Regions from separate parts of the Homo sapiens genome. Here regions 1, 2, 3, 5 and 6 are each reported to be linked to region 4. Evidence: microRNA targets listed by miRTarBase, many of them from high-throughput screens and not tested one by one. Region 4 holds a microRNA gene; each other region holds the end of a gene's coding sequence.

Region 1 (5,086 bases), not on the chromosome of region 4:
GGAGTGCAGTGGTGCGATCATGGCTCACTGCAGCCTCTGTCTCCTAGGTTCAAGGGATTCTCCTGCCTCAGCTTCCCCAGTAGCTGGGATCACAGGCATGTACCACCACATCTGGCTAATTTTTGTACTTTTAGCAGAGATAGGAATTCACCATGTTGGTCTGGCTGGTCTCAAACTCCTGGCCTCAAGTGATCTGCCCGCTTCGGCCTCCCAAAATGCTGGAATTACAGGCATGAGCCACCGCACCTGCCACAGTCTACTACATTACTAATAATAAAGCTGCTCTTTAATAATTATGTTTTCAGAAGGCCATTTGGAAATAGTTTTTATCTCACTGTTGGATTATAAAAACACCAAGTGACCCGAGTTCTACACTTTTCTGTGCCAAAATGAAGAACATTAATAATAAGTATCCATTTCCCCTCAAGTATATATATTTAAATCATAAATATGTAAGTAAATGTATACATTTATTTAAATTTTAAATATGCAATTGGCCAGGTTCCAAGGGCTTATCCACCTTCCTGGAAAAAAATTGTCTTTGGAAAATTCCTTGATATGATTTTAGAGGGCAGCCTCTAAAATGAAGTGTTCAATGAATGTTCAAGGAATGAATGAATTTTAGCAACCTGTATCTTAGGTGCTGAGAGTATCTGATTAGGGCATATCAGACTAAAAAAAGTCCTCTACAAACACTAGAATTTACTAATCTATTTTCTACTTAAAATGCATAGATAATTTGACATCAAGCACATGTACAGTTTATGGAAACAATTTTATTGGTAACAGAACCCTACTAACTCATCAGAGCCCCACTATTTTCTCCCGTGTACTTTCCTTCTCCTGGCAGCCTGTCCCCCTTCCCTGGGACCCCCTCCCAACTCATTCCCGTGAACTTTCTGACTTGCTGCCTCTCTCCCTTCTGGGAAAAAGTGTCAGCTGCTGCACTAATAATCCAGCACATGCTACGACTGTCCCTGAGACAGCTGTCTACTGCCCCTAGGCACTTGGGCAGGGGATCTCCTTGGAGCCAGAAAGTTAATAACTGGTCTTGAAGATACAAACAATGTCATGGTCTATGACTTTGTGACACGATGCAAAGGAAAGCGTTTGGGCTTTGAGTCAGGCAGACCCAGATTCATACCTCAGCTCTTCTTAATATGTGTGTGACTTTGGGCAAAGTACTGCATGTTTCTAGCCCTCAGCTTCCTCATCTGTGAAATGGAAATCACAATACAGAGAATATTGGGAATAACAAATGAGAATAAATATATTTAGCCCTCTGTAGATGCTCAGTGACCGGGCTTCCTCTCCCACTATCTCTTTGTCTTTCCAGAGTTGAAAGACCCATAACAAGGAATCAAAGGAGAGTGAAACGATGACTAAAGGTTTAGAGGATAAGATCTAAGAATGGATGAAGGAGGCCGGGCGCAGTGGCTCACGCCTGTAATCCCAGCACTTAGGCGGGCGGATCACGAGGTCAGGAGATTGAGACCATCCTGGCTAACACGGTGAAATCCCGTCTCTACTAAAAACACAAAAAAATTAGCCGGGCGTGATGGCGGGCGCCTGTAGTCCCAGCTATTCGGGAGGCTGAGGCAGGAGAATGGCGTCAACCCGGGAGGCGGAGCTTGCAGCGAGCCGAGATTGCACCACTGCACTCCAGCCTGGGCGACAGAGCAAGATTCCATCTCAAAAAAAAAAAAAAAAAAAAGGATCAAGGAATGGTAAACGTTTATTTTATTTTATTTTATTTTATTTTATTTTGAGATAGAGTCTCTCTCTGTTGCCTAGGCTGGAGTGCAATGGCACAATCTCAGCTCACTGCAACCTCTGCCTCCCCGGTTGAAGCGATTCTCCTGCCTCAGCCTCCTGAGTAGCTGGGACTACAGGCGGGCACCACCACACCCAGCTAATTTTTGTATTTTTAGTAGAGACGGGGTTTCACCATATTGGCCAGGATGGTCTCGATCTCTTGACCTTGTGATCTGCCCGCCTAGGCCTCACAAAGTGCTGGGATTACAGGCATGAGCCAACGCGTCCGGCAGAATGGTAAATGTTTAATATGGAAAAGGGAACATTTAGTCTGGACAGAGAGGACAATAAATAATTATGGCTACCATTTGTCACCACCTTTCCTGGCATTTACTTATTTATTTATTTATTGAGATGGAGTTTCGCTCTTGTTGCCCAGGCTGGAGTGCAATGGCACAATCTCGGCTCACCGCAACCTCCGCCTCCTGGGTTCAAGCGATTCTCCCGCCTCAGGCTCCCCAGGTAGCTGGGATTACAGGCATGCACCACCACGCCTGGCTAATTTTTGTATTTTTAGTAGAGACGGGGTTTCTCCATGTTGGTCAGGCTGGTCTCAAACTCCTGACCTCAGGTGATCCTCCTGCCTCGGCCTCCCAAAGTGCTGGGATTACAGGTTTGAGCCACTGCGCCTGGCCTTTCCTGGCATTTAAAATAGCTATGTCCAGTCTTCAGAACAGCCCTGTGGCGAGGTATGATCATGAAACCCACGTTATAAAGTGAAGAGGAAACAGATTTTATAACTTGCCCAAGATCATCCAGCTAAATGGAGAAGTGGAGATTCAAAGTCGGGTCTGACTCTTTGTACTAGCTTAAGAACAGACTCTCAGCTGGATGTGGTGGCTCATACCTGTAATCTCAACACTTAAGGAGGCCGAGGCAGATGGATCACTTGAGCCCAGGAGTTTTAGACCACACAAACACACAAAAAATTAGCCAGGTGTGGTGGTGCATGCCTGCAGTCCCAGCTACTCAGGAGGCTAAGGAGGGAGGATTGATTGAGCCCTGGTGATTGAGGCTGCAGTTAGCCATGATCACACCAAGAGAGGGAAGAAGGAAGGTGGCTGTCAGTCACTGGTATCAGAGACAAGCAGAGGACAGAGAAGACAAATGCAAAATCTTTCTTTGGCTGGGACTTGTCAGAAAGGGAATCTCCAGTGTTGGTGATGGTGTCACCAACAGCCTCATGTGCCTTATGTGTGGGCATCTCTGAAGGCAGAAAGAACTCCATTTTCCCTGGAGGAAAATGGACCAGTGAGCATGAGGCTGAGGTCTGACTCCTGGGGGCCACACAGGCAGGCCTGAGCACCTTGCCCCTCCTCACTGAAGGGGGCTTAATGTCTGGGGCACAGTTGACTCCATCCCTCTCTTTTTTCCTGTATGTGGTTTTTTGTTTTTTTTTTTTTCAAGACAAGGTCTCATTCTGTCACACAGACTGGAGTGCAGTGGCACAATCTCAGCTCACTGCAAACTCTGCCTCCCAGGTTCAAGTGATTCTCCCATCTCAGCCTCCCGAGTAGCTGGGACTACAGGCACGCACGTACAGGCTGGTCTTGAACTCCTGACCTAAAGTGATCTGCCTGCCTCGTTTTTCCTGTATGTTCTAATGTTATTTCAGGGATCCCCTTTGCCTCACTCTGGCCATTCCAAAACATATATATGTTTCATTTATATAAATCCAAATGAAAATATTAAAATTGCAAGTGAGATATTTTTGGCCTTAATCTTTGAATTTCAATGTTTTCTTATCTGTAGAGCTGGTGTGCTAACTCCTGTAATTCTGGGCAATGCCCATGTGGTTCTTGGCTGCTTCAAGCCATCTCAGGTCTGATTTTCACACAAGCTCAGCAGCACTGGGCTAGAAGGGTACCGCCCTCCCACTCTGCTGCCACTTTGAATAGAAGTCCAAGCTTTCGCTTTCTTGCCCTGACTTTGATTCTTCACATTGCTGAGGAGCAGTGATTGAAGCTTAATCTCATTGTCTACAGTCCGTCTCCTCTATGGAGCTGCACTATTCTTTCCCATCTCAATTATTTCTGATGTAACCAAAACACTCTCTCTCCCCACTGCCTTTTTTCTTTTGTAAAGACTTGCAAAGGGTCAGTTCCAGAGGCTCGAGCCCTGTGTTCTGACTTTCACAGACAGAGGCCTGCCACTCTTACATTTACAGGTCATCATTCTGAGCAATACACTTTTTTTGAAGAGTAGTCCTAAAAGCTCACTAAAAAGTTGCATTTGTATTTAACTTAAATAGAGAACCTTATGTGTAGTCCATGTTTCTGGACTCTATACCTGATTTTGAATCACTGGACTTAAATTATTGGACTTACAACACTGATACATCTTGTAAATGAACCTAAGCAAAGAATACCAGCCCTACATCCCACTCCCCTCAAGATAACTGGGAAAGACACAAAGCCATGCTGAGGAGGAGCCATGGTTTGATATTGTCCAGTGAGTGTCTCTTGGCCTCAGAATGCTGCCACTTCCTGCAGTTCCAGCCCTTGGCTGTGGTCCATTCTGAGTAAGTGAATTCCTCTGTTAAAACTTGCACACAATAAGGAGATGGCGTCACCAACAGCCAGAGAAGTCAAGGGTCCTGATCCATCCAGAGACAAGGTGAAAAGGCAGGCTGGGGGGGAAAGGGGGACCAGCAGATTAGGCCAAGAGTGTAGCATCATGAAATGTGATGTCTTCATGAGAAATGCAAGGAAATAAAGCATTTGCTGTACATATCTAACCCGTATGAGAGAGACCCCACTTCTTCAGAGGAAAGCATACCAGGGAGGTCAGAACTTGGGCCAACTCCATGACTTCAATGGTAGAGAATGGCACACGGGCCAAACAGGATGCATACCATCACCAAGAAGTGTCGGGGTCTCACCGGCTAAAGACATGTTACAAAGGTGCCCTCAGTCACCTGCCCAGAGAATAAAGCAGGGCCCAGGCAGGGAAAAACACACAAGGATACTGATCTTTAGCTGCTGGCTTCCTGGGGTCTTGATGCCTTGGAGATGGAGGATAATGGGAGAGCCCGAAAGGCAGTCTTTGGGGGTTTCAGCTGACCCATCTCCCTCCATCTGCATCTTAGAGGCCACTCTTCTAAAAACTACAGGCGCATACCTGGTGGGCAGGGAATCTGTGCCACTTGGTCAGGTCAACATTTCCAGATCTCGTTCTCCCTGGTCAGATTTATGATCATTAAGTCTAAAACATCTGCTCTTTTTCCTCAAGCAACAGTTACACCTGAGTGGCTGGAGAAGCCACTCCAGGT
Region 2 (5,086 bases), not on the chromosome of region 4:
TTTCTGCCCACTAATCTTCAGAAGCCTCACTGGAACCTCCAGTGGTGTGACTGTAACTGCTGTACTACCTCCAGCTTCCTAGGCCCTCACCGTCCAGTCTGGACTTCATGATCCATCTCTAGCTGCTCTAATTGCCTTGCTCCTTGGCCCTGTGCAACCCATGTCCTGGCCACCACACCATTGCTGTGATACACCCAGTGGTCTGTTTTCTGTTTGTGTTCCAGGGGTGCTCCTGTCTGCTGAAAAAAAAAAAAAATTCTATGGTTGTATTGAAGTTGCCCCTGCCTGATCTTGGTCTTCAATTTCAGCTGGGTCGTCAGGTCTTCTATCTCATTCTTATATCTGTTAATGGCATTTCTAAAATGTGTCAATTTGTATAAATCCTTAATCCAACAGATTATCTTCAATAACTTTAATTCCTACTTTATCAATGAAATAGAGACCACCAAGCATGAAATCCCCCTTATGCCTATGAACAAAATCCATATCCACTCCCATTCCTACCTTCTTCTCTCTACTTCATTCCTTTCCAAGTTTTATTTATCTACTTGTTCTCTATATTCTTCCCACCCCAAATCTAGGGGCTTTACCCTATCAAATATCCTCGCTCCTGTATTTTTCTTTTTTGTTGTTGTTGTTGTTGTTGTTGCTGTTTGTTTTTTTAGACAGAGTCTGGCTCTGTTGCCCAGGCTAAAATGCAGTGGCACGATCACAATTCACTGTAGCCTGGACCTCCCAGGTTCAAGCCATCCTCCCATCTCAGCTTCCCGAGTAGCTGGGATTATAGGCACGTGCCACCATGCCCTGCTTTTTGTAGTTTTTTGTAGTTTGGGTTCTGCCATGCTGCCCTGGCTGGTCTCGAACTCGCGGGCTCAAGCAATCCTCTCACCTCTGCCCCTGCCTCTGCCTCTGCCTCTGCCTCCCAAAGTGCTGGGATTACAGGCATGAGCCACCGCACCAGGCTTCTCTTGTATTTTTGAAATCTTCTCTCACTGGCTTCTTCCCCTTGGCCTCTAGTCTCTTCCCCTCAGGAAATTAGCCTTAAGTTCCACGAGGGTGGGGACATCCCCATTCCTTTCCAAGTTTCATCTACTTTCTTGTCCTCCACATTCCCTCCCCAGCCAAGAAATCCAAGCTATTTAGCATGGTATGAAGAAGCTTTCACCATCTCCTCCACCCTTCCCTCTCAGCCTTAAGTCTCTCTGCTACTGTACATGAAATGGATATGTTCCTCATTTGATTCCTGATCTTGAGCAAACTTCATTTATTCATTTAACATGCATTGAGTGTCCAAATTCACTAGGTCATAATCTGACAGTAATTATTTATTCCCCATGACCATTCATCATTCCTCTCCCTTCTCATCTTGGAGAAATCATTTTTCTTTTTTTTTTTTTTTTTTTTTTGAGACACTGTTCTGTCATCCAGGCTGGAGTGCAGTGGCACAATCACAGCTCACTGCAGCCTCAACTTCCCCAGGCTCAGGCAATTCTCTCACCTCAGCCTCCCAAGTAGCTGGGACTACAGGCATGCACCACCACGCCTGGGCTAAATTTTTGTATTTTTTGTAGAATTGGGGTTTTGTCATGTTGCTCAGGCTAGTCGCGAATTCCTGGGCTCAAGCCATCCACCCACCTCGGCCTCCCAAAGTGCTGGGATTATAGGCATGAGCCACTGCACCTGGCCTCTTTTTCAATTTTCCTTTTTAGTTGACACTTTTTTTTTTTTTTTTTTTGAGACAGTCTTGGTCTGTCGCCCAGGCTGGAGTACAGTGACGTGATCTCAGCTCACTCCAACCTCTGCCTCCCAGATTCAAGCAATTCTCCTGCCTCAGCCTCCTGAGTAGCTGAGACTACAAGCATGTGCCACCATGCCCAACTAATTTTTGTATTTTTAGTAGAGACAGGGTTTCCCCATGTTGGCCAGACTGGTCTGGAACTCCTGACCTCAAGTGATCCGCCCACCTCGGCCTCCCAAAGTGCTAGGATTACAGGCGTGAGCCACCATACCCGGCCATAGTTGACACTTTTTTATATCCACCCAGTTCTTCTAAGTCCTCTGTGGTTGTGGACTTGCCACAAATAAGAGAAAAGAAGTTATCTGCTTCCAACTCCTGGGCCACCTGCCTTCTCTCCTATCCCTACCCCCTTTAAGGAAGACTAAGACAGGGTGTCTCCTTAATCTTCAGACACCATGATGCTGGGACCAGGGTTGACTCTAGGTGAAATTCTAAGGTAACCAAATTAGTATCATCACCCTCCTCCCTCCAGGAGCCCACTGTCACCCACCACAGCCTTTAGTATCCTTCCAGAGGCCTCTGGCTGCCTAGACTACTCAACAGTGACCCCTCACTCCTGGTCCAGTACTTTCTAAGCCATGCATACTGAGTCCAGGATCCCAAGTCACCCCTCCTCCTAGGGAATGGAATCACATGGTAACAGACCAGAATCTCTTCTGCTGTCTCCATGGTCCAGATAGAGCAATGCGATTTGGTGTGGGCATGACTGAGAAGACTAGTAGGGAAGGTCCTTTTCATAGAATGCTGGCCTGCTCCCGAAGACACTGCTCATGGAAGAATGGATAGAGTCATTAGTGCTGCATTACTCAAGGGACACCCCACGCCAGTGCTTAGACACCAGCAAAACTGGGGAACTGAAAAATAAAAGAAAAAATTAGAAACAGAATTTGATAGTTAATCTATATACAATATATGTTTTAAGTATAATCATGTTGAACTTTAAATGTTTCATGGCTTAATATTTTCATTCTGATTACATATGAAAAATGGGACACCACAATCTTTTCAGAGTTTAGAACCTTTAAAGTCTTCATCTAGTCTTGGTTAGGTGGAAGGTCTCTTCCTGGATGAAACCTTTCCTGATCCCTTGCCCAGGTAGTACCATTACTCCTATTTGGAGCCTTCTAAATGTACCCTGATTAACTTCTATCACTCAGCTTACCTAGTCTTTCCTTGCTTCTGCATTGCAAGTCCCTCCAGGGAAGGTCCTGGGTTTTATTCATCTTTGTATCCTTAGCACCTGTGCCTGGACTATAGTAGGAACTCAATAAATGGCTGATGGGATTAATGAAGAGATCTTTTTCTTTCCACAAATAGACACACACAGTTTTTCTTTTCTTTCTTTATTTATTTATTTATTTGAGACGGAGTCTCACTGTGTCGCCAGGCTGGAGTGCAGTGGCATGATCTCGGCTCACTGCAACCTCAGCCTCCCGGGTTCAAGCAATTCTCCTGCCTCAGCCTCCCGAGTAGCTGGGACTACAGATGTGTGCCACCATGCCCAGCTGATTTTTATATTTTTAGTAGAGACGGGGTTTCACCATGTTGGCCAGGATGGTCTCCATCTCTTGACCTTGTGATCCGCCCGCCTCAGCCTCCCAAAGTGTTGGGATTACAGGCGTGAACCACTGCATTCAGCCTTAGTTTTTCTAGTAATAGAATTAGGTCTTACAAAAAAAGGCCCAGAGATCCTTTTTGGGCAGCTTCCTGTCCCCAAGACTATTTCCTTGACCTCTCCAGCATAGCAGTAGACCATAAAAATGGACACAGGGTGCTGAGAAGCAGCTGAACCAGACGAAATGATGATTCTTATTTTGGGAGGTTTCAATCTCTTTGATAATCTAGCAAAAAACAGATCCTTTCCCCAGGAAAATGCACATTCAGACACACAATTTTCTAGTTTGGTTCCTGGACCACTTGATTGCCTCCCTTCCCTGGGAGGCTTCCCAATCCTCTCCACCCCCCAGCTTCCTTCCCACTCCCAGGTAAAGAACCCCTACCCTAGAGGCACTGGGTTCTAATCAGTATTCAGAGTGAGGCCATGGTCAGCTGCCCTATCCTCCCAGTGAGCCCATTCTTGTTCATTCTATAGCACCACTACTGCCCACTCACAGCCAAACACCTGGGACCTCCATGGAAATGGCATACGCTCTGAGAATAGCGAAGTTTCACCAAGGGGAGGAGGAGAAGACAACAGGACAGTTAAGCAAACAAAAAACAAACCACCTGAGTCACCAGAAGGGGAACAAGCCTAACTATTCAGCTCCTCTTCTGGGTGGCTGTATCTCCTCATTACCTAGTAAACTGCCACCAAATGTAAGAAGAAATAAATAAGAGTCCAAGCATTTATTTTATTACCAAAAACAATTTGTTAATAAACACGCTCAATGCCTCCAATCCTGTCCCTGAGGATAATCATGAAAGTCCTTGGGGTTGTAGAGGAAACCTTAAGAGGAAAATGGCTACTTGGTTATCAATGCCTTGGCTGGTGACAAAGAAAGGACCCTTGCAGGGACCAGTCACATGCCATCCTTGGGCCTAAGGAGCCCGAAAGATGGGAATGGATGTGAGCTAAGGATTTAATCACTGTCAAGCAGATCTTGAGGGTTATGGTTAAGCCTGATAACAGCCTCTTTAACAAGAACACACACATCCAGGATCCCCTCAAAGAATCCAGAGTCCTCAGGCTCCCCACAAAATGTAGTCTGGCAGAAAAGGGAAGTCTTTAGAGTCTGCAGAATGATGCAAACCCAGGCCAGAGTGGACCACACTGCTCTCGGCACCACTCCTAAAGGCATCCATTGGCAACGGCTGCCCACTAGGGGCACTGCCACTTGCCTGGCTCAAACTTCAGGACCTGGGGAAGAAATGGTCTGGCTCTGCGGCCTTCAAACCATCTGGATCTCTGGCTCCTCAGCTATTCCTTGAAGCTTTTCCATGATGCCCCCTGAAGGTGGCTCAGGGGCTGGGGGAGGCTCCCCTGGGGCTTCAGACAGCACATAGTAGACGATCTCTTGCTGGCCTTGGGCATTGGTCTGATTCACCACGTGGATGACAGAACTGGGGTTGTCCTGAGAGGCTGAGAGGGCTGTCCCTTCGCTACCCTTGCCCTCCTCTTCCTCTTCCTTACGTCCTGGCTCCCCTGGCACTGTTTCTAGAATAATGCCCTGCAGGCTGCTCTCGTTCAGCGACGTTCCCAGGCCCGATCCCTCTTGTGGTTGCCGCAGCAGTTGCTGTGTCAGCTCTACACTCTCGTAGCGAACCAGCTGCAGCCGCATATAGCCATCT
Region 3 (5,085 bases), not on the chromosome of region 4:
CCGAGGCAGGTGGATCGCCTGAGGTCAAGAGTTCGAGACCAGTCTGGCCAACATGGTGAAACCTTGTTTCTACTAAAAATACAAAAATTAGCTGGGTATGGTGGTGGGTGCCTGTAGTCTCAGCTACTCAGGAGGCTGAGGCAGGAGAATCACTTGAACCCGGGAGGCGGAGGTTGCAGTGAGCTGAGATTGCACCATTGGACTCCAGCCTGGGTGACAGAACGAGACTCTGTCTCAAAAAAAAAAAAAAAAAAAGAAAGAAAAAGAAAAAAAAAGATGGAAATAACAGACACAGGGAACCCCAAAGGCTGGGAGGGTGGTAAGGGTTGAGGAACTGCCTACTGGATGCAGTGTCCACTATTTGGGTAACGGGTGCATTGGAAGCCCACTCCTCACCAGTGTGCAATATGCCCATCTCACAAACAAGCACGTGTCTCCTTGAATGTAAACTTTTTTTGAAAAAAGATTTTAAAAGGTTATTTCTTTAGATTTTTAGGTTGAACTGTATGTAGACAGAGAGTTAAATAAATTATGGGTCAGCCATGTAATGAAATACTCTATACAAAAGAATGAGGTAGATCACCCTACATATTAATATGTATAGACCTGGGAAAATATCTCTAATATATTGTTAGTTACAAAAATCAAGTTCAGGAACAGCATATATAGTGTGATCCCATTTGTATTATTAAAACAGATGTGTCTATCATTGTCTATAGAACAGAAAAATATCTAAAAAACATAACCTTACAGTGTTATGAGTTATCTATAGAAATGGTTTTGTGAGGAGCCATGAAACATGTCCCTTCGATAAAGCAATTCTTTTTCTTTTTTTTTTTCCTTTCTTTTTATTTTTTTTGAGACGGAGTCTCACTCTGTCGCCCAGGCTGGAGTGCGGTGGCGCAATCTCGGCTCACTGCAAGCTCTGCCTCCCAGGTTCACGCCATTCTCCTGCCTCAGTCTCCAGAGTAGCTGGGACTACAGGTGCCTGTCACCACACTCAGCTAATTTTTTGTATTTTTAGTAGAGACAGGGTTTCATTGTGTAATCCCAGCACTCTGGGAGGCCGAGGGGGGCAGATCACGAGGTCAGGAGATCGAGACCATCCTGGCTAACACGAGTAATTCTTTTTCAATGAAACTTTGTGTTCAAGGATAACAAGCACAGAGAAAGAGACATGAGTCGTGAGCAGCCCAGGAGTGATCAAAGTGCGCCCGTGGGAAAAGCCACCACCAGGTGAGGGAACAAGACCAAACAGGATCCCCCATCACGTCCCTCCCAGCCATGTTCCCCCCTCTCTCCAAAGCCACCATTATCCTAACTGCTGAGCACAAACTTGGAAACAAATAAACAAACTTGGGCCTTAGGTCTGGGGTGTCAGAGGCTGAGGGGATCTGGAGCAGGGGAAGGGGAGAAATGGCAGCCCAGGAACCCCCAGCTCAGTCCCGCTGTAAAAGCCATGCCCTCGGGGCCCCATCTGTGAGGAAATGCTTCTCGCACTGGCTCATGAACACCCCCAGCTGTGCGTGCCTGGGACAGAGACCCATGGGAAATGGCCATTTCCTAGGACTAGTGAGTAGTATATCACACACACGGAAAAATTATGGAGTAGAGTATGAAAGCTGAATAAAACTTGGAAACAGGAAACTTCGAAGACATGAAGGATTAGAGCAGGCACGCTGGGAATCAGCCCTGAAGAGGCAGGCCTGCGTTAAGGGCTGAATCGGTAGGAAAACTGGGGCAATGAGGGACGGGTCAGGCCTAGGAGGAGTACCCATATAGCTGTCGTCAGCGGACACTCCTTCTGTGTCCCTCAGACTCAGGGCAGTCCCTCCGCCTGCCCTTCAGCAACTCTCCAGAACAAAAGCCGAGGTCACCTCCCCTGCTCTTGAAAACCCTCAATGGTCAAGAAGCTTTGTCAAATCCTCATGAGCCTTGCACAGTGCCAGGTGCTGTACCTAATGTAAGTGCCTCATTTTACTCTAATAAAAACTAAGTATTAGGCTGATCTACAGGAGGAAATGAGATTCACAGAGATTAAGGCAACAGTCAAAAGACACAGAACTAGTAGGCAACAGACCTGGAATTCGACCCTGTGTCAGGGTGGTTCCAAATGCAAGCTCTTTCTACTAAACTGCCAGCCTCCCAGGTGCCCAGAAGTGATCCTGGCCCTCCTCCTCTACCCTGATGTCCTGACCTCCTGGTGTGCTGACAGTGCTGGGTGAACAGAGAGCACCGCTGCCTGTGGAATCTGGCCCTGCGGAATACCGGCTCCCCACAGAACCAGGAGGCCCTTCAAGAAGGAAGGAAAAGAGGGGCCTGGGAAAGCCAGGAGTAGACGTGACAGACCCTGACGTCAGGAAACAGGCCAAGGGCATAAACACCCAACCCCTGGGGACATTCCAGCCAGCAAAATGTCCCTCTCTAAATTTTTAAAACCCCCCATCCCTGAGGGAGGCAGCGTAGAAACAGAGAAGAGAAGGCAACAGGAAGCTGCAGCCACTTCCTTTGAGAAGAGGTGGACAGTGAGCAAGAGTTTAGGGGGAAAGAAGCTGAAAAAGGACAGTACCGGTCCAGGGGTTGGAACAGCTGGAGGACTCCCTGGTACCACAGCACAAATGGGGCTGGGTGCCCCAGGAACAAGAACATACACACATACCCCACCTTCCACACACCTTTTTTCTGTAAACAGACCTCATTTCTCGGACCACAGAAGTGGACACATGGCTGAGCTGTTCCCTGCCTTGGGAACAAGCCAATCTGCACAGAAGCAGAAGCAGCACAGAGAGCAGAGGCAGGGGGACGGGAAACACATAGGGAAAAGACAGCAGGGGAGGCCTGAAGAGAGAAGGAACAATGGTGAGACAGGAGGAGGAAGGGAGGGAGTAGGGGAAGGAGAGAGAGAGAAAGAGGGAAACAGAGATAGAGTGCGCATGTGCTAGCTGACTGACCGTGGAGCCATGGATCTAGGTGTTCCTGAGGCCAGTTCCATGTCCCAAGCATGGTGATGTAAATTAATGCATTCTGCCTCTCGGCTTATGCTATTCGAAATTAGGCTGTATCATTCACAGTCCAAAGAGTTACTATTTCAGTTGTATATAAAGAACCTTAAAAATCTATAAAGGCACCTCCAAAATCACATCAAAGCTGGAAAAACTAAGGAAACCAAAGTTGGTTCTCTTCTTTCTTTTTTTGAGACGCAGGTCTTGCTCTGTCGTCCAGGCTGGCCTCGACTTCTCAGGCTCAAGCAACCCACCTCAGCCTCAGTAGCTGGGACTACAAGTGCACACCACCGTTTGACTAATGAAAAAAAAATTTTCTTGGAGTCTTTCTCAAAGAAGCTATTCAAATGAAAGTATATTTATTTTTATAAATGTTTCCTCCAGTAAGTTTATGTTTGACTGTACTTAAGAAACAGGAAAAAAAAAAAACCTGTAATTAAACTTGTGCCAAGATTAACCAACAGCCTCTACTGCTTGTTTCCCATTATTACAGGTTGGGTATCCCTTATCTGAAATGCTTGGGACCAGAAGTCTTTTAGACTTTGGTTTTTTTGTGTGTTTTGGAATATCTGTATTATATTTACTAGTCAAGTATCCCAAATCTGAAAATCCAAAACCTGAAAAGCTCTAATGAGCATTTTCCTCCAATGTCATGTCAGTGCTTGATATGGTTTTGCTCTGTGTCCCCACACAAATCTCATGTCAAATTGTAATCTTCGGTGTTGGAGGAGGGGCCTGGAGGGAGGTGACTGAAACATGGGGGCAGACTTCCCCCTTGCTATTCTGTGTTAGTGAGTTCTTGGAGATCTGGTGTTTGAAAGTGTGCAGCATCTGCCCCTTTGCCCTCCTCCTCTGGCTCTAGCCACGCAGGACATACCTGCTTCCGCTTCACCTTCTGCCACGATTGTAAGCTTCCCAGGGCCTCCACAGCCATGCTTCCTGTACCACCTGTAGAACTGTGAGTCAATTAAACCTCTTTTCTTTACTTATAAATTACCCAGTTTCAGGTAGTTCTTTATAGCAGTGCAAGAACAGATAAATACAGTGCTCAAACAGTTTTAGATTTTCGGATTTGGGATGCTCTCAACCTGCACCATTAGATTATACTCTCTTGGTATAAATTATTTAAAAACAAATCCCAAACTAATACATAAACAAGCCGAACAAACCTATCAGCATAAACTTATAAACACAAACACAGGCAATACACAGACACCAGGTAAAACAGGGATGGTATTTCTGGATGGTTTAATCATGAATGGCGGTAGGCAGTGTAAGAAAAAAGTTCCTAGAGCATGATAAACCTTGGTTTCTGGCACAGGATAAACCTTTCATTTCATGGTGTACATTTCACAATATTAAAAAAACCCCAGCCTGGTTTTCATGATTAACGCCGTGGGGAAAGGACAATGTTTCCAGGGAGCAACGACTCGCAAGCACACCCCTGGGGCTGTGCGGTGGCCGTCGGCGGGGCCAGCTTCAAAGTCCAACCCACAAGGCACAGGTTTTCAAATCTTTACCTCTGTGTACAAGAACGTACATGAACTTTAAAAACGTGTGTTTCCTCGTCTGTGTTTAACACCCTAACGATGATCAGTTTGGGGGAGACGTACCCCTCCCTAATCACAGGTAGGACCACTTCCCAAATCAATGAAACGACCGTCCTCTTTTGTGTCTTGACTTCAGGTGTCCGGCCGAACGACGGAGTCTTTTCCTTTCTTGTCGATGCAGTTTCTCAGCCTCCTGTTGCTTCTTCTGCTGTTCAGACTAAAAGAGAAAATGAAATGAGTAGAGGGAAAGAGAGAAAATTCTATACCTCTTTTCTGGTAACCGTCAGGCTGCCAACAGTACCACCACCAATCTCAGAACTGCTGCCAGGAGAAATGCTGCCCACAGGCTCCAGGGGACATGGTGGGGCTGCCTGGACTCTGCTCTGACAAATGCTACCCTGGCAGAAACAGCAGGACCAAGGCCAACTTTTACCATCAATGCAAAAGCAGAAATTCTGAACCCCAGGCAAGAGAAGGGCCCTGACAGACCAGCCTCCTACAAAGTAGGAGACTGGTTTTTCAACCAACACACT
Region 4 (5,000 bases):
GAGTGAGACTCCGTCTCAAAAAATTAAAAAAAAAAAAGGCCACTCTGTAAAAGAAATTGTTACTTGTGATGAGGTAATGTAGGTATGTCTAGCTGTACCACTCAGAGCTGAGAAACCCTAGACACATTACTCTAAAATTGGGGTAACGAAAATAATACCTAAATGAAGTTATAGCAGGAATCAGGAGAAGGTCTGAAAACATGAGTTATAAAACAAAAAAAGCTCTGTGCAGACCACACAGAGGCTACCCCCTCCTCCTCCTGGTCCCACTGCTTCAAACCCATCCAGGCCTTCACTAAGTAGTGCTATTTGTGCTGGCTGCCTTGCAAACAAATCTCCTTTACCTATGTCCAAAGAAGAGTCAAAATGAGAAGTAGGGGCAAGGTATTTGTCAAACTAGAATCAGACTCCAAGAAAGTCACATCAGAAAAGTCAAACAACAGACATCCAAATGGTGGTGGCGTTGTTAGTATACACCAGGGGAAGGGACAGTAAATAACTAAGTCAATTATTACTGAAGCTCTGTGGCCCTCTGTATGGTACTTAAAGCCTCTCTGACTTTGTTTCCCAATCTATAAAATGGGAATGGAAAACATATCAAACTCAGTGTTGTCTGGGTTTTAACGAGACAGTCCATGAAAAGTGCCTAGTACAGTGCCTGGTATACATATAAATGTCCAGTGAATATTAACTATCAATCCTGGACAAATTAAAGTCCAAAGACACTCACAGACTTAATCAAGATTTGACAATGCAACTTGCAGAGCCAGGTCTTCTGACTGAAAAGCTCCTGCTTTCTAGTCAGTGCATAAGAATGACACAGAGCCAACCAAAGTCCTTGAAGACAGAACCAAGCCATATCGTGGTAGGTGGGGAACCCACTGGGAGGCAAGTGCAGAGCATTTGGGTCTGACACTGACACTAGCAGTTATCTCTGTGTTCCTGCTTCTGAGCCTTTTCTTGTCCTTTGAAGCCCCCAGTTCTTTCCATCTCTAGGTGTCTCCGTCAAGGACAGACTTAAGACTCACCCGAAAGAAAACGAGACTTCTGGTAAAGCCCTAGAGACCTGATCTGGCATCACCGGCTTTGCTCTATTTGCTTTGAGGAAGCCATCCTTCCCTGGTCGTCTTCACTGCATCTGCTCTGTGTACAGAATCCTTCTCATTCTAATCCACCTTGGTGGCAGTAAGTGCTTAGATAAGCAAACTTGGCTCACCAATACCATGAGGTTCTTTGGTGGGTGAAGAGATGTTTCCTTTTCCCAGGTCCCCTTACTTCCTCTCCATCCCCCCACTAAACTCCCATCTTCTCTCTGTACTTCTCTCACCTTGTACTCCTGCACCACCTCCTCCAATGGCACCACGCTGTGCTGTTTGTGGCTCCTGGATTCTCGGCACACCACACAGATGGCCTCTTCGTCTACCTCGCAGAAGAGCTTCAGGGCTTCTTGGTGTTTGGGACAGATGCCCTGATCGGTCACGCGGCTCCCTCGACCAGGGGTTGGGTGCATCTGCCGAATCACCTGGACCATATTGGCCAGCTGCAGGTTGGGGCGGAAGCTCCGCCGAGGAAAGCTCTTTCGGCACTGAGGGCATGTGAAGCACCTCCGAGGGGCTGGAGGCGGGGGCAGTGGGGTGACGGGGTCTAGATCCTCTTCCTCAACCTCCTCCAGCACTTCCTCCTCGTCCTCCTCATCCTCCCCCCTCAGGTCCTCCTCCTCCATGTCCCCCAAGTAGTAGTCCAGGTCTTCCTCCTCGTCCTCCTCCTCCCACACATAGTCCATGTTGTCCCAGCTGGACCTGCTCATGCCACTGGTCCAGAACACACCCTCTTCTTCCTCCTCGACCTCCTCCTCCATGTCACCCTCGTAGTCTTCATCCCGCATGGGGGTGTCCCACCCCGCGCCAGCCCCCACAGCCTCCACTTCCTCCTCCTCTCCGTCCTCCTCCTCCTCCTCCCGATCTAACTCATCTCTGTCCTCCTCATCCTCCCCACCCCACAACTGGGTTACACAAACTCGGCAGAAGTTGTGCCCGCAGCCGATGGACACGGGGTCCGTGAAGTAATCGAGGCAGATGGCGCACACCGCCTCCTCCTGAAGGGTCTGCACAGGGTTGGGTGTCATGGCAACGGCAGCCATCTTAGTGTCCAGCCAGCCAGTGTAGAGGTTCGGTGGGGGGGCGAGGGGCGGGGGTCTTCCCTACCGACGCCCTGGCGACCCGGCTCCACCCCCAGCCCTGCCCCTCCACACCTCGCCCCAAGAGCAGCCAGAGAGATGTCCTGCCGACAACCCACCCCAACACAGTGTTCCCTACTCCCAAACGACAACCGTGTCTCTACGAGGGGAGGGGACAGTGCTGGGCGCCACCGCCAAGTCCCTCAGGTGGCTCTGAGTACAAGTCTGCCCCAATGCTCCCTTGGACTCCTCATAAACCCCCGCCCCTCCTCACTTCCTGGCCCCGCCCCTAGCTTCCGGCCTCCTTCCCAACACTTCCGGCGTCTACACACCACCTAAGCTCGCGACTTCCCTCCGCTGTCCTGCTACTCCCCCTTTTTCCCCGCGGGGCCCCAGGGCGACAGGAAATGGCGAGGAGACGCTCTAGTCCGCACTAGAGAACAGGGCGGGAGGGCTAGGACGGTGGAGGCCCGCGTCTCTGTGGTAAGAGGCCGCGGGGAACGCAGAAAGAACAGAGGAACCGCCTACCCCCATCCCCCGCCGCTGGGGAGAAACTTCGGGGGGTAGGGGGAGCGCCTGGCGGCCGTCTGCTTTCGGTGCTATCACCGCATCGGCCAGACGCCATCCTACCCTCCCGGCACAGCCGACTGCAGCCGGTACTCCCCACAGCCGATGCCGGAAGCGAGGGGGTGGGTCCGCGGCGCGCCCTGAAGTACTTCCGGCCCTTCTAGGCAGACGACTTCGTTGTGGAGGACTCAGAGGGTCGTCCGGGTCGGACCGGGGGCGGGGCCTGAGAAAGCGCTTCGCGGGTTAGGGCAGCAGACGCCCCACCCTTCCCCAACTGTAGTCGGCGTTTCGCATCCGAGGTAGAAACTGCCAACCGGACACTGTCTCATGGTTTAGATGAACTTCCCTAACTGCCCAGCAGTGAAGAAGTGGTGACGAATCATTACATCTACATTCTCACAGCATCTCTGCAAAAATAGATGCTTTGTGCGGTAGAAATAATACTTGATGCTTAAATAGCTCTTTAAATTTTATTTTTATAGAGATTTGATGTCGATACATAAATAAATAAATGTTGTTTGATGCGAGAAAAATGACGGGGCCATGATTTATGTACAGAATCTCCAGTGAGTGCCAGACACAGCGTGACGCCAGGGCTGGGCCTGCAGAACTTACCCTGCTCTCAAGGCGGCTCGCGGGAAAACTCCAGATGGACGTCGCGCTTCCTAGGGGGGTGGTCAGGCCTCTGAGTATGTCAGATCAAACGCGCCAAAAACCACGAACCCTCGTGGGTGAACTATGCTAGGCCATTACAGGACCTGCGGACTCGGCTGCGGTGGACAAGTCCGGCTCCAGAACCTGGACACCGCTCAGCCGGCCGCGGCAGGGGTCCCCGGGCCTGTCCTACAAGGGCGCTTGCCTAGAGCTATCCCGGCCGTCTCAGCCGTGTGTGTCTTCAGGACGATGCCGGCAGGAAAGTAGCCAAGGTGGTTTCCGTAGTGTAGTGGTTATCACGTTCGCCTCACACGCGAAAGGTCCCCGGTTCGAAACCGGGCGGAAACACGTTTTGGTCTGTTCGGGAGATTCTCTCCCGAGGCCGGCCTTACGTGGCAGGAAGGACATGTGTGTCCCTGCGCTTCGGAGGAACACGGACTGGGGCAAAACTGAAGGAGAGCACTACTCAAGTAAATTCAGGTCTCGCCCCTCACCTAATCTCTTGCTCTTCCCTTCTGAAGCCTATGCAGCCATCACATGTACAGGAATCCGTAGATTTCAGATCCTCGGCTCTAGTGCCTAGAACAGAGCCAGGCGCAGGCGCTTCTTAGTATTTGCACAGTGGAAACGTGCTTACACCTCTGAGGGTAACCTCCATCTTCAGAGACAAAGTTAGAATACAGACATGGCCGCCCGGCTAGCTCAGTCGGTAGAGCATGAGACTCTTAATCTCAGGGTCGTGGGTTCGAGCCCCACGTTGGGCGTAATTTCGCTTTTTGGAAAGGTTAAGGCAAGTTGTGTTACCTAAGTGCACAAATGGTATTCTCTGTACCAAGACCTAGTGGGTAGCAGATTCACCAACAGTGGGTGTTAGAACTTGGACTAACCTGGTGTTCTCCGATCCGTGTGTGGAAGGCCCCGAGCAGAATTCTCACAACGTTTGCACCCTCGCTAACTCTCAAAGAAAGAATGAGAGGCGGGTACCTGTGGACCAATTCCTGCAGGCCAGCACCGCGGGCTATCGTGCATGCATGACCCTTTGCTGTAGGCCACTCGCCCACGGGCAGCACATATTAGGCATTTTATGTTTACCAGACGGCCTGCCCCCGTCTTGCTGTGAGACTTGCTGTGCTGGAGGGAACAATGTGGTTTATCGAAACTGGGGTGAGACCGCAGGACGACCCCAGGCGTTCGTGAGCGTCAAAACCTATCTGATTCACTCCCACTTTACTGGGAGATTTAGTGGTTAGGCTTCCGCCTTTGTCTCGCTACGACCTGCTTTCGACTCCCTGTCAAGAAAGATGCTTTGTGTCATATGAGACACTTGTCTTCCGTATATTCTTTTTTATGCTCTTGACTTTAAGAGTCTATTTTTGTGAGATGTTGCCCCACAAATACCAGCCTCCACGTTTCCCCCATACATAAATAGAGATAAAAACGGGCCATGCGCCGCGGTGGCTTATGCCTGTAATCCCAATACTTTGGGTAAGCCAAGGCGGGAGGATCGCTTGAGCCCAGGATGGCCTCGAAATTAGTCCTGCAAATATAGGCCTTTTTTCTTTTTTTCTTCTCTTTCTTTCTTTCTTTTTTTTTTTTTTTTTTT
Region 5 (5,072 bases), not on the chromosome of region 4:
ACAGTCCACACCGTCACACACACACGCCCACACCCGCATGCCACACATCCATACAGTCCACATTCACGTATGCCCATATGCATCCATTCACACGTGTGTACACATGCTCACACACACACATTCATAGACTCCACACATGCACACGTGCACACACACGCACATGCTCGCACACATGCACAGATACACTCACGTCCACACACGCTCAAACATGCGTGCACACCCGGAGGTGCCCAGAGGGGCAGGGTGGGGAGGACCCCTGCAGCTGCCACACTCCCTGCTCTTGTGGGTAGTTGGGGGCCACTGGGTATGTGTGTCCATGCCCCGTCCCCCCGGCAGTGCCGTGCACTGCAGACCTGCCTGGGGCTCAGCACCTGCAGGGGCCTGAGGGCGGGGGAGGGAATGCGGGGTCCCTGGACCCCTGCGGTCGGGGTGGTGAGGCTGCTCTTGCAGAGAGAAGTGGGGAGTGCCTGGCTGCATCCGGGAGGGATGGAGGGCTGGGGAGTTGGGGGGGTGGGGCACCTCCAGCCCCGGCGTCAGCTGTCCGCCTCGCCCCAGGCTCCTCTCGAAGATCCTGAGCGAGTGTGAGGACGCCGACGAGATCGAGTACCTGGTGGACGGCTCGTGGTGCCCGATCCGCGCCGAAAAGGAGCGCAGCTGCAGCCCGCAGGGCGCCATCCTCGTGCTGGGTGAGTGCCTCACCCCACCAGCCGCGCAGTCCGCAGCCAGGGCCGCCTCAGTTTCCCCATTTATCAGTGGTTGCATCCTAAGTACCTGCACCCTGTCCCTGTTGCCCGTAGGCCCCTCGGACGCCAATGGGCTCCTGCCCGCCCCCAGCGTCAACGGGAGCGGTGCCCTGGGCAGCACGGGTGGCGGCGGCCCGGTGGGCAGCATGGAGAATGGGAAGCCGGGCGCCGATGTGGTGGACCTCACGCTGGACAGCTCATCGTCCTCGGAGGATGAGGAGGAGGAGGAAGAGGAGGAGGAAGACGAGGACGAAGAGGGGCCCCGGCCCAAGCGCCGCTGCCCCTTCCAGAAGGGCCTGGTGCCGGCCTGCTGACCCCGGCCGCACACTCGACTTTCCTGGTGCTCACCACGCAGAGGGGCACGGGCCAGCCTCGGGCGCAGAGGGAGGAGTGACCTTTCTTTTTCTTTTTATTGTCGTTCGTTTTGTTTTTCCACCCTTTTGCCTGGCTCCTGGCACCTGTACCTCTGGACTCTCCTATCGGGGGATTAAAAAAAAAAGTAAAATGACAAAAAAAGATACAAAAAAGAAAAATGAAACAAAAAAGTCAAACTCTTAAAAACAAGGCCGGCCACCCACACAGCCGCCTCCCCGGCTGGAGTCCGAGCCGGGAAGGGGTAGTGGGCGGGAGGGACCAGGACGCCGCCCCGCGCCCTCCCCTCCGGATGCCCCGCCGCCCGCCGCCCTCTGCCCACGACCATTCCAGCCAGTGCGCGGGGACCCGGGCGGCGGGCGGTGGGGCGCAGCCCCTCTCTGGCGACCACTTTGACGTTTGTCTCTTCCTTTGCTTTTTCTCTGCAAATGCATCCTCGCCCAGAGACCCTCACGCGCCGAGCAGCGAGCGTTTTAGCCGAGAAGCCATGGAGTGGGTTGGGGCGGGGAGGGGCAGTAGGGTGGGGGGATGGGTGGGCAGGATGGGGGTACAGTGGGCGGCTGGGGAGGGTTTAGCCACAGATGTGTTGTATTTTTTGAAAGTGCAATAATTTGGTATTTTGAAGACCCGGCGTGTGGTCAGGAACCCCCGGGGAAGGCGGGGGCCCAGGGTGCGGCACCGTGTGGCGTGGGGGGGTCTCAGTTTTCTAGCCAGCTACCTCGGTAATTCCAATTCAGGTTAACTTCCCTACGGAACAGCACAGATGTCCACAGATGTCCACAGCTGCCGCCGCCGCCGCCGCCACCATACCCCGGTCCTTGGGGCATGGGTTGCGGTCGCTTCCCAAGGGGCAGCAGGGACCCCGGCCACCCCGGCTCTCGGTTTGGGTTGATTCCTCTCCTTTTTGCTCTTGGTTTTCCGACGGGTACGAGGCTGGCCCGGCACCCTGTCCCCCGGGAGCCTCACTCTTCCAGCAGGACCAGACCAGGGGCCTCCTTCCTGTCCCCAGGCGTTCCCGGCCCCTCGCAGGCCCCACCCATGCCCTTGGCCTCAGGGTCCAACAACTGGGGGAGCTACCAGGGCTCTGCCTTCAGGAGCCCACAGCTGGGCACCCCCCTTGCCCCGCAGGAGACCGGGGCGCAGGCGGGGCACCGGCCTCACCTGGTTCTCCAACACCGCTGCCTGCGGTCTGTTTTGCTTTTGTCCTCCCCAGCCCAGAATTTTCCTTTGTATAAACAGAACTCCTAGTCAGGAAGCAATATCATTTCAGGTCTAAAGAAAGGGACGTGCATCTGGCCGAGGGCAGTTCAGTCTCACTGCAGAGCCCGCAGCCCGCTGCGCAGCTCGGCCCCTCCCGCCCGCACGGGCAGCTGAAGGCCGCTGTTTTCTAATATTTGTATTCTAATTTAATTGTTTTTAAAAAATGCAAATAAAAAAGGTCGAGGTGAAGCCATCCAGGCGTCCGCTTTTCTGTGCCCTGTGTCTCTTAAGTGTGTACCCTGTAGTCGGGGGGCGGAGTTGGGGGAAGGACAGAAACTCAGCCTCACCCACATCTCTCTTTCTTGGTTATTGCCTCAGCTTCAGAATTCAAAAGGTGCTGCTCGTGGTCAAATGAGGCAGATTTTTATTTATTTACTTATTTTTAATAGAGACAGGGAGTCTTGCTGTGTTGCCCAAGCTGGTCTTGAACTCTGGGCCTCAAGTGATCCTCCTGCCTCAGCCTCCCAAAGTGCTAGGATTACAGGCATGAGCCACCATGCCCGACCTGAATGAGGCCAGTTTTACTGTGTACTGTACTGCCTGGGCCTGGTGTCCACCACGCTGGGAGAATGGGAGAAGGGACTTGGGCTGTACATGGAATTCAGGTCCCAGGATCGTCCATGTCTCTGGGTGGCCAAGACGATACACAAATGTTTTGCTTTTGTAAGGTGAAAAAAAAGGGCCGGGTGCAGTGGCTCACGCTTGTAATCCCAGCACTTTGGGAGGCCGAGGCGGGTGGATCACCTGAGGTCAGGAGATCGAGACCATCCTGGCTAACACAGTGAAACCCCATCTCTACTAAAAATACAAAAAGCTGGGCGTGGTGGCGGGCGCCTGTAGTCCCAGCTACTCGGGAGGCTGAGGCAGGAGAATTGCTTGAACCCAGGAGGCGGAGGTTGCAGTGAGCTGAGATCACGCCACTGCACTCCAGCCTGGGCGACAGAGCGAGACTCCGTCTCAAAAAAATATATATACAGACAACCAATGAGCACATGAAGAGATGTTAGGGATGTGAGTCAAATGCACGGTGAGATACCTGTCACCCCCACCAGGACAGCTAGCATCAAAAACAGCAGCGAGGGTCAGGGAAGCTGCAGTCCACATGGCTGGGGAAGATAACGTGGTGCAGCCCCTTGGAAACAGTTGAGGCTAAATGTGGAGTTAGCGTGGGACCTGCAATGCCAGCCCTAGACGTGTCCCCAAGGTAAGTGAACACGTCCGTCCACACAAATGTGCTCACGGACGTGCACAGCAGCCAAATGTGGCAATGACCCATGTCCAGCCGGGGAGTGAATCAGTGCAGTGTGGCCATCCACACTGCAGAATGACAGCCATGGAAAGGAGCGAGGCTCTAACACAGGCCCCCAGCCCAGACGAACTCTGAGGATGCCATGCTTAGTGAGAGACATCAGACACCAAAGGCCACGAGGCGTGTGATCCCATTTCTGTGAAATGTCCAGAACAGGCCAATCCACAGAGACAGGAAGGGGATTCACGGGTGCTGGAGAGTGGAGAAGGGGATTGAGAGTGATCACAAATGGATATGGGGCATCCTTTGGGCTGGATAGAATGTTCTGGAATTAGTGGTGACAGGTGCATAATTTTTTTAAGGGAATTTTTTGTTTGTTTGTTTGAGACAGTCTCGCTCTGTCGCCCAGGCTGGAGTGCAGTGGCGTGATCTCAGCTCACTGCAAGCTCTGCCTCCCGGGTTCACGCCATTCTCCTGCCTCAGCCTCCCAAGTAGCTGGGACTACAGGCGCCCGCCACCACGCCCGGCTAATTTTTTGTGTTTTTAGGAGAGACGGGGGTTTCACCGTGTTAGCCAGGATGGTCTCAATCTCCTGACCTCCTGATCTGCCCACCTCGGCCTCCCAAAGTGTTGGGATTACAGGCATGAGCCACCGTGCCCAGCCTTTTTTTTTTTTTTTTTCTTTTGACATGGAGTCTTGCCCTGTTGCCCAGGCTGGAGTGCAGTGGCACCATCTCGGCTTACTGCAACCTTCACCTCCCCCCAGGTTTAAGTGATTCTCCTGCTACAGCTTCCTGAGTAGCTGGGACTATAGGCGTGCACCACCACGCCCAGCTAATTTTTGTATTTTTACTAGTCACCATGTTGGCCAGGATGGTCTCAATCTCTTGACCTCGTGATCCACCTGCCTTGGCCTCCCAAAATGCTGGGAGCATTACAGGCATGAGCTGCCGCACCTGGCTTTGAAGAGCAATTATATGGTGTGTGAATTACATTTATTTTCATTTCTGAGAAAGGGTCTCACTCTGTCACCCAGGCTGGAGTGCAGTGGTGCAATCATAGCTCACGGCAGCCTCGACCTCCTGGGCTCAAGCAATACTTCCACCTCAGCCTCCAGAGTAGCTGGGACCACAGGTGTGCACCATCACACTCGGCTAATTTTTGTATTTCTTGCATAGACGTGGCTTCACCTTGTTTTTCTGGCTGGTCTTGAACTCCTGGGCTTAAGTGATCCTCCCTTCTTGGCCTCCCAAAGTGCTGGGATTTCAGGCATGAGCCACCGCGCCTGGCCTTGAAGGGAAATTGTATGGTATGTGAATTATATTTTTGTATTTTTATTTTTGAGACAGGGTCTCACTCTATCGCCCAGGCTGGAGTGCAGTGGTGTAATCATAGCTCACTGCAGCCTCGACCTCCTGGGCTCAAGCAATCCTTCTGCCTCAGCCTCC
Region 6 (5,076 bases), not on the chromosome of region 4:
GACCTCCTGTGGACTCTGGAGAAAGCCCAGAGGTGGTGCGAGCAGCCAGAATGGGTCCACATTGACACCACACCCTTTGCCAGCCTCCTCAAGAACCTGGGCACGCTCTTTGGCCTGGGGCTGGCTCTCAACTCCAGCATGTACAGGGAGAGCTGCAAGGGGAAACTCAGCAAGTGGCTCCCATTCCGCCTCAGCTCTATTGTAGCCTCCCTCGTCCTCCTGCACGTCTTTGACTCCTTGAAACCCCCATCCCAAGTCGAGCTGGTCTTCTACGTCTTGTCCTTCTGCAAGAGTGCGGTAGTGCCCCTGGCATCCGTCAGTGTCATCCCCTACTGCCTCGCCCAGGTCCTGGGCCAGCCGCACAAGAAGTCGTTGTAAGAGATGTGGAGTCTTCGGTGTTTAAAGTCAACAACCATGCCAGGGATTGAGGAGGACTACTATTTGAAGCAATGGGCACTGGTATTTGGAGCAAGTGACATGCCATCCATTCTGCCGTCGTGGAATTAAATCACGGATGGCAGATTGGAGGGTCGCCTGGCTTATTCCCATGTGTGACTCCAGCCTGCCCTCAGCACAGACTCTTTCAGATGGAGGTGCCATATCACGTACACCATATGCAAGTTTCCCGCCAGGAGGTCCTCCTCTCTCTACTTGAATACTCTCACAAGTAGGGAGCTCACTCCCACTGGAACAGCCCATTTTATCTTTGAATGGTCTTCTGCCAGCCCATTTTGAGGCCAGAGGTGCTGTCAGCTCAGGTGGTCCTCTTTTACAATCCTAATCATATTGGGTAATGTTTTTGAAAAGCTAATGAAGCTATTGAGAAAGACCTGTTGCTAGAAGTTGGGTTGTTCTGGATTTTCCCCTGAAGACTTACTTATTCTTCCGTCACATATACAAAAGCAAGACTTCCAGGTAGGGCCAGCTCACAAGCCCAGGCTGGAGATCCTAACTGAGAATTTTCTACCTGTGTTCATTCTTACCGAGAAAAGGAGAAAGGAGCTCTGAATCTGATAGGAAAAGAAGGCTGCCTAAGGAGGAGTTTTTAGTATGTGGCGTATCATGCAAGTGCTATGCCAAGCCATGTCTAAATGGCTTTAATTATATAGTAATGCACTCTCAGTAATGGGGGACCAGCTTAAGTATAATTAATAGATGGTTAGTGGGGTAATTCTGCTTCTAGTATTTTTTTTACTGTGCATACATGTTCATCGTATTTCCTTGGATTTCTGAATGGCTGCAGTGACCCAGATATTGCACTAGGTCAAAACATTCAGGTATAGCTGACATCTCCTCTATCACATTACATCATCCTCCTTATAAGCCCAGCTCTGCTTTTTCCAGATTCTTCCACTGGCTCCACATCCACCCCACTGGATCTTCAGAAGGCTAGAGGGCGACTCTGGTGGTGCTTTTGTATGTTTCAATTAGGCTCTGAAATCTTGGGCAAAATGACAAGGGGAGGGCCAGGATTCCTCTCTCAGGTCACTCCAGTGTTACTTTTAATTCCTAGAGGGTAAATATGACTCCTTTCTCTATCCCAAGCCAACCAAGAGCACATTCTTAAAGGAAAAGTCAACATCTTCTCTCTTTTTTTTTTTTTTTGAGACAGGGTCTCACTATGTTGCCCAGGCTGCTCTTGAATTCCTGGGCTCAAGCAGTCCTCCCACCCTACCACAGCGTCCCGCGTAGCTGGGACTACAGGTGCAAGCCACTATGTCCAGCTAGCCAACTCCTCCTTGCCTGCTTTTCTTTTTTTTTCTTTTTTTGAGACGGCGCACCTATCACCCAGGCTGGAGTGGAGTGGCACGATCTTGGCTCACTGCAACCTCTTCCTCCTGGTTCAAGCGATTCTCATGTCTCAGCCTCCTCAGTAGCTAGGACTACCGGCGTGCACCACCATGCCAGGCTAATTTTTATATTTTTAGAATTTTAGAAGAGATGGGATTTCATCATGTTGGCCAGGCTGGTCTCGAACTCCTGACCTCAAGTGATCCACCTGCCTTGGCCTCCCAAGGTGCTAGGATTACAGGCATGAGCCACCGCACCGGGCCCTCCTTGCCTGTTTTTCAATCTCATCTGATATGCAGAGTATTTCTGCCCCACCCACCTACCCCCCAAAAAAAGCTGAAGCCTATTTATTTGAAAGTCCTTGTTTTTGCTACTAATTATATAGTATACCATACATTATCATTCAAAACAACCATCCTGCTCATAACATCTTTGAAAAGAAAAATATATATGTGCAGTATTTTATTAAAGCAACATTTTATTTAAGAATAAAGTCTTGTTAATTACTATATTTTAGATGCAATGTGATCTGAAGTTTCTAATTCTGGCCCAACTAAATTTCTAGCTCTGTTTCCCTAAACAAATAATTTGGTTTCTCTGTGCCTGCATTTTCCCTTTGGAGAAGAAAAGTGCTCTCTCTTGAGTTGACCGAGAGTCCCATTAGGGATAGGGAGACTTAAATGCATCCACAGGGGCACAGGCAGAGTTGAGCACATAAACGGAGGCCCAAAATCAGCATAGAACCAGAAAGATTCAGAGTTGGCCAAGAATGAACATTGGCTACCAGACCACAAGTCAGCATGAGTTGCTCTATGGCATCAAATTGCAACTTGAGAGTAGATGGGCAGGGTCACTATCAAATTAAGCAATCAGGGCACACAAGTTGCAGTAACACAACAAGACTAGGCCAGCTCTGGAATCCAGTAACTCAGTGTCAGCAAGGTTTTGGGTTATAGTTCAAGAAAGTCTAAACAGAGCCAGTCACAGCACCAAGGAATGCTCAAGGGAGCTATTGCAGGTTTCTCTGCTAAGAGATTTATTTCATCCTGGGTGCAGGGTTCGACCTCCAAAGGCCTCAAATCATCACCGTATCAATGGATTTCCTGAGGGTAAGCTCCGCTATTTCACACCTGAACTCCGGAGTCTGTATATTCAGGGAAGATTGCATTCTCCTACTGGATTTGGGCTCTCAGAGGGCGTTGTGGGAACCAGGCCCCTCACAGAATCAAATGGTCCCAACCAGGGAGAAAGAAAATAGTCTTTTTTTTTTTTTTAATAGAGATGGGGGTCTCACTATGCTGCCCAGGCTGGTCTTGAACTCCTGGGTTCAAGTGATCCTCCTGCCTCAGCCTCCCAAAGTGCTGGGATTACAGTGTGAGCCACTGCGCTTGGCCAGAAATGGTTTTGATCTGTCTGAACTGAACCCTACTGCTTAGGCATAGCCCCATCCTTGATAATCTATTTGCTCCCAAGGACCAAGTCCAAGATCCTTACAAGAAAGGTCTGCCAGAAAGTAAATACTGCCCCCACTCCCTGAAGTTTATGAGGTTGATAAGAAAACATAACAGATAAAGTTTATTGAGTGCTAACTTTATGCCAGATTCTGTTCTATGTACTTTATTTATACAATTAACTCGCTTAGTTCTCCCAACATCTCTGTGAGTTGGCTACTGTCATTTATCCTTATATTACAAATAGGTCCAGAGGGGTTAGTCATCTTGTCCAGAATGGTGGAACCAGGTTAAGGATCAGGCAGTCTGGGCTGGGCATGGTGGCTCACATCTGTAATCCCAGCACTTTGGGAGGCTGAGGTGGCAGATTGCCTGAGCTCAGGAGTTCGAGACCAGCCTGGGCAACATGGTGAGACCCCCGTCTATACCAAAAATACAAAACATTAGCCAAGCGTGGTGGTGCATGCCTGTGGTCCTAACTACTCAGGTGGCTGAGGTGGGAGAATCCCTTGAGCTCAGAGGTTGCAGTGAGCCAAGATTATGCCACTGCACTCCAGCCTGGGTGACAGAGTGAGACCCTGTCTCAGAAAAAAAAAAAAAAAAGAAGCAAGCAGTCTGGGCTGGGTGCTGTGGCTCGCGCCTGTAATCCCAGATACAAAATAATCATTTTGTAATATATCCTGCTTATTAGACAGAACATTTTGATCACTCATCTGTTCCCTAAGTTATAGATTTACGTCCACTTTAGAAATGGCTTGTGAGGCAAGTTTAAGTGACCGATGACAGTTTTAAAGCAAGGTCCATGTCATGTTATGGCATAATTTGGTAGAATGTTCTAGTAGTGTATCAGTTTTCAGGTGGTAGGCTTGAGGATGATACACACACACACACACGCAATGCAATTCTATTATTGCCCAAAGAAAATAGACCCATTAAGGAAGTCCAACTTCTGCTGCGTGGACCAGTGCTGCCACATCACACATAGACCAAAGGCTTAGGTTTTTGTGGTTTTGGTTATTTATTTTATCTTTTTATTTTATTTTATCTTATTTTATTTTATTTTATTTTATTATTTGAGATGGAGTCTCACTCTGTCACCCAGGCTGGGGTGCAATGGCGCAATCTCAGCTCACTGCAACCTCCAACTCCTGGGGCTCAAATGATCCTCCAGCCTCAGCCTCCCGAATAGCTGGGACTACAGATGCGTACCACCATGCCTGGCTAATTTTTTTATTTTTTGTAGAGACAGGGTCTCAAGCATCCTCCCGCCTTAGCCTCCCAAAGTGCTGGGATAACAGGCATGAGCTGCTGCACTCAGCCATGTTTTTGATTTTTAACAAAATTGTAACACCTTAAAAAAAATGTATAACAAGGCCGGGCACGGTGGCTCATGCCTGTAATCCCAGCACTTTGGGAAGCCAAGGCAGGCAGATCACCTGAGATCAGGAGTTCGACCTGACCAACATGGTGAAACCGCGTCTCTACTAAAAATACAAAAAATTAGCCAGACGTGGTGGCACATGCATGTAATCCCAGCTACTTGAGAGGCTGAGACAGGAGAACTGCTTGAACCGGGGAGGCAGAGGTTGCAGTGAGCCCAGATCACACCATTGCACTCCAACCTGGGCAACAAGAGTGAAACTCCATCTCAAAAAAAAAAAAAGCTGTATAACAGCTTGAGATATAATTCACAATACCATACAATTCACTCATTTAAAGTGTACAATTCAGGGGTTTTCATTCCACTCCAACCCACTCAAGCCTAGGCAACCACTAATCTACTTTCTGTCTCATAGATTTGCCTATTTGGGGCATTTCATATAAATAGACTCCT

The links. The annotated mature microRNA hsa-miR-4638-5p reads ACUCGGCUGCGGUGGACAAGU and lies in region 4 at 3,508-3,528, shown strand. An mRNA with a match to its seed (bases 2 to 7 or 8) in the 3' UTR can be bound and repressed. Matches are read on the target gene's strand: a 7mer-m8 pairs with bases 2 to 8, a 7mer-A1 pairs with bases 2 to 7 and ends in A, and an 8mer does both.
Region 1: miRTarBase lists WDR31 as a target of hsa-miR-4638-5p. Seed matches in the 3' UTR shown: 8mer at 2,215-2,222.
Region 2: the mRNA of HINFP is a reported target of hsa-miR-4638-5p. Seed matches in the 3' UTR shown: 7mer-A1 at 4,573-4,579 and 8mer at 3,206-3,213.
Region 3: miRTarBase lists NOL10 as a target of hsa-miR-4638-5p. The part of its 3' UTR that is shown has no 7-base or 8-base seed match.
Region 5: the mRNA of PIAS4 is a reported target of hsa-miR-4638-5p. Seed matches in the 3' UTR shown: 8mer at 1,591-1,598.
Region 6: miRTarBase lists G6PC1 as a target of hsa-miR-4638-5p. The part of its 3' UTR that is shown has no 7-base or 8-base seed match.

Annotation. Positions count from the first base shown.
Region 1 is chr9:113,312,466-113,317,551 of GRCh38, forward strand. WDR31 (WD repeat domain 31) reads right to left here. Exons shown (of 11, transcript NM_001012361.4): 11 at 757-4,444. The coding sequence ends at 4,284. Among named protein-coding and RNA genes, the nearest start is that of RNF183, 12 kb to the left of the region's middle.
Region 2 is chr11:119,134,099-119,139,184 of GRCh38, reverse strand. HINFP (histone H4 transcription factor) reads right to left here. Exons shown (of 10, transcript NM_198971.3): 10 at 3,126-5,086. The coding sequence ends at 4,687. Among named protein-coding and RNA genes, the nearest start is that of ABCG4, 12 kb to the left of the region's middle.
Region 3 is chr2:10,567,422-10,572,506 of GRCh38, forward strand. It overlaps NOL10 (nucleolar protein 10), which reads right to left. Exons shown (of 21, transcript NM_024894.4): 21 at 3,333-4,769. The coding sequence ends at 4,650. Among named protein-coding and RNA genes, the nearest start is that of NOL10, 120 kb to the right of the region's middle.
Region 4 is chr5:181,221,140-181,226,139 of GRCh38, reverse strand. MIR4638 (microRNA 4638) reads left to right here and starts at 3,507; the gene lies at 3,507-3,574. It overlaps TRIM41 (tripartite motif containing 41), which reads right to left and starts at 2,859. Exons shown (of 6, transcript NM_033549.5): 1 at 1,328-2,859. The coding sequence starts at 2,140. TRK-CTT2-3 (tRNA-Lys (anticodon CTT) 2-3) reads left to right here and starts at 4,089; the gene lies at 4,089-4,161. It overlaps TRV-CAC1-5 (tRNA-Val (anticodon CAC) 1-5), which reads left to right and starts at 3,673; the gene lies at 3,673-3,745. RefSeq lists enhancers at 966-1,963, 2,631-2,860 and silencers at 2,111-2,320, 3,591-3,820, 4,071-4,280.
Region 5 is chr19:4,036,819-4,041,890 of GRCh38, forward strand. It overlaps PIAS4 (protein inhibitor of activated STAT 4), which reads left to right. Exons shown (of 11, transcript NM_015897.4): 10 at 556-686; 11 at 798-2,568. The coding sequence ends at 1,057. Among named protein-coding and RNA genes, the nearest start is that of ZBTB7A, 28 kb to the right of the region's middle.
Region 6 is chr17:42,911,049-42,916,124 of GRCh38, forward strand. It overlaps G6PC1 (glucose-6-phosphatase catalytic subunit 1), which reads left to right. Exons shown (of 5, transcript NM_000151.4): 5 at 1-3,390. The coding sequence ends at 378. Among named protein-coding and RNA genes, the nearest start is that of G6PC1, 13 kb to the left of the region's middle.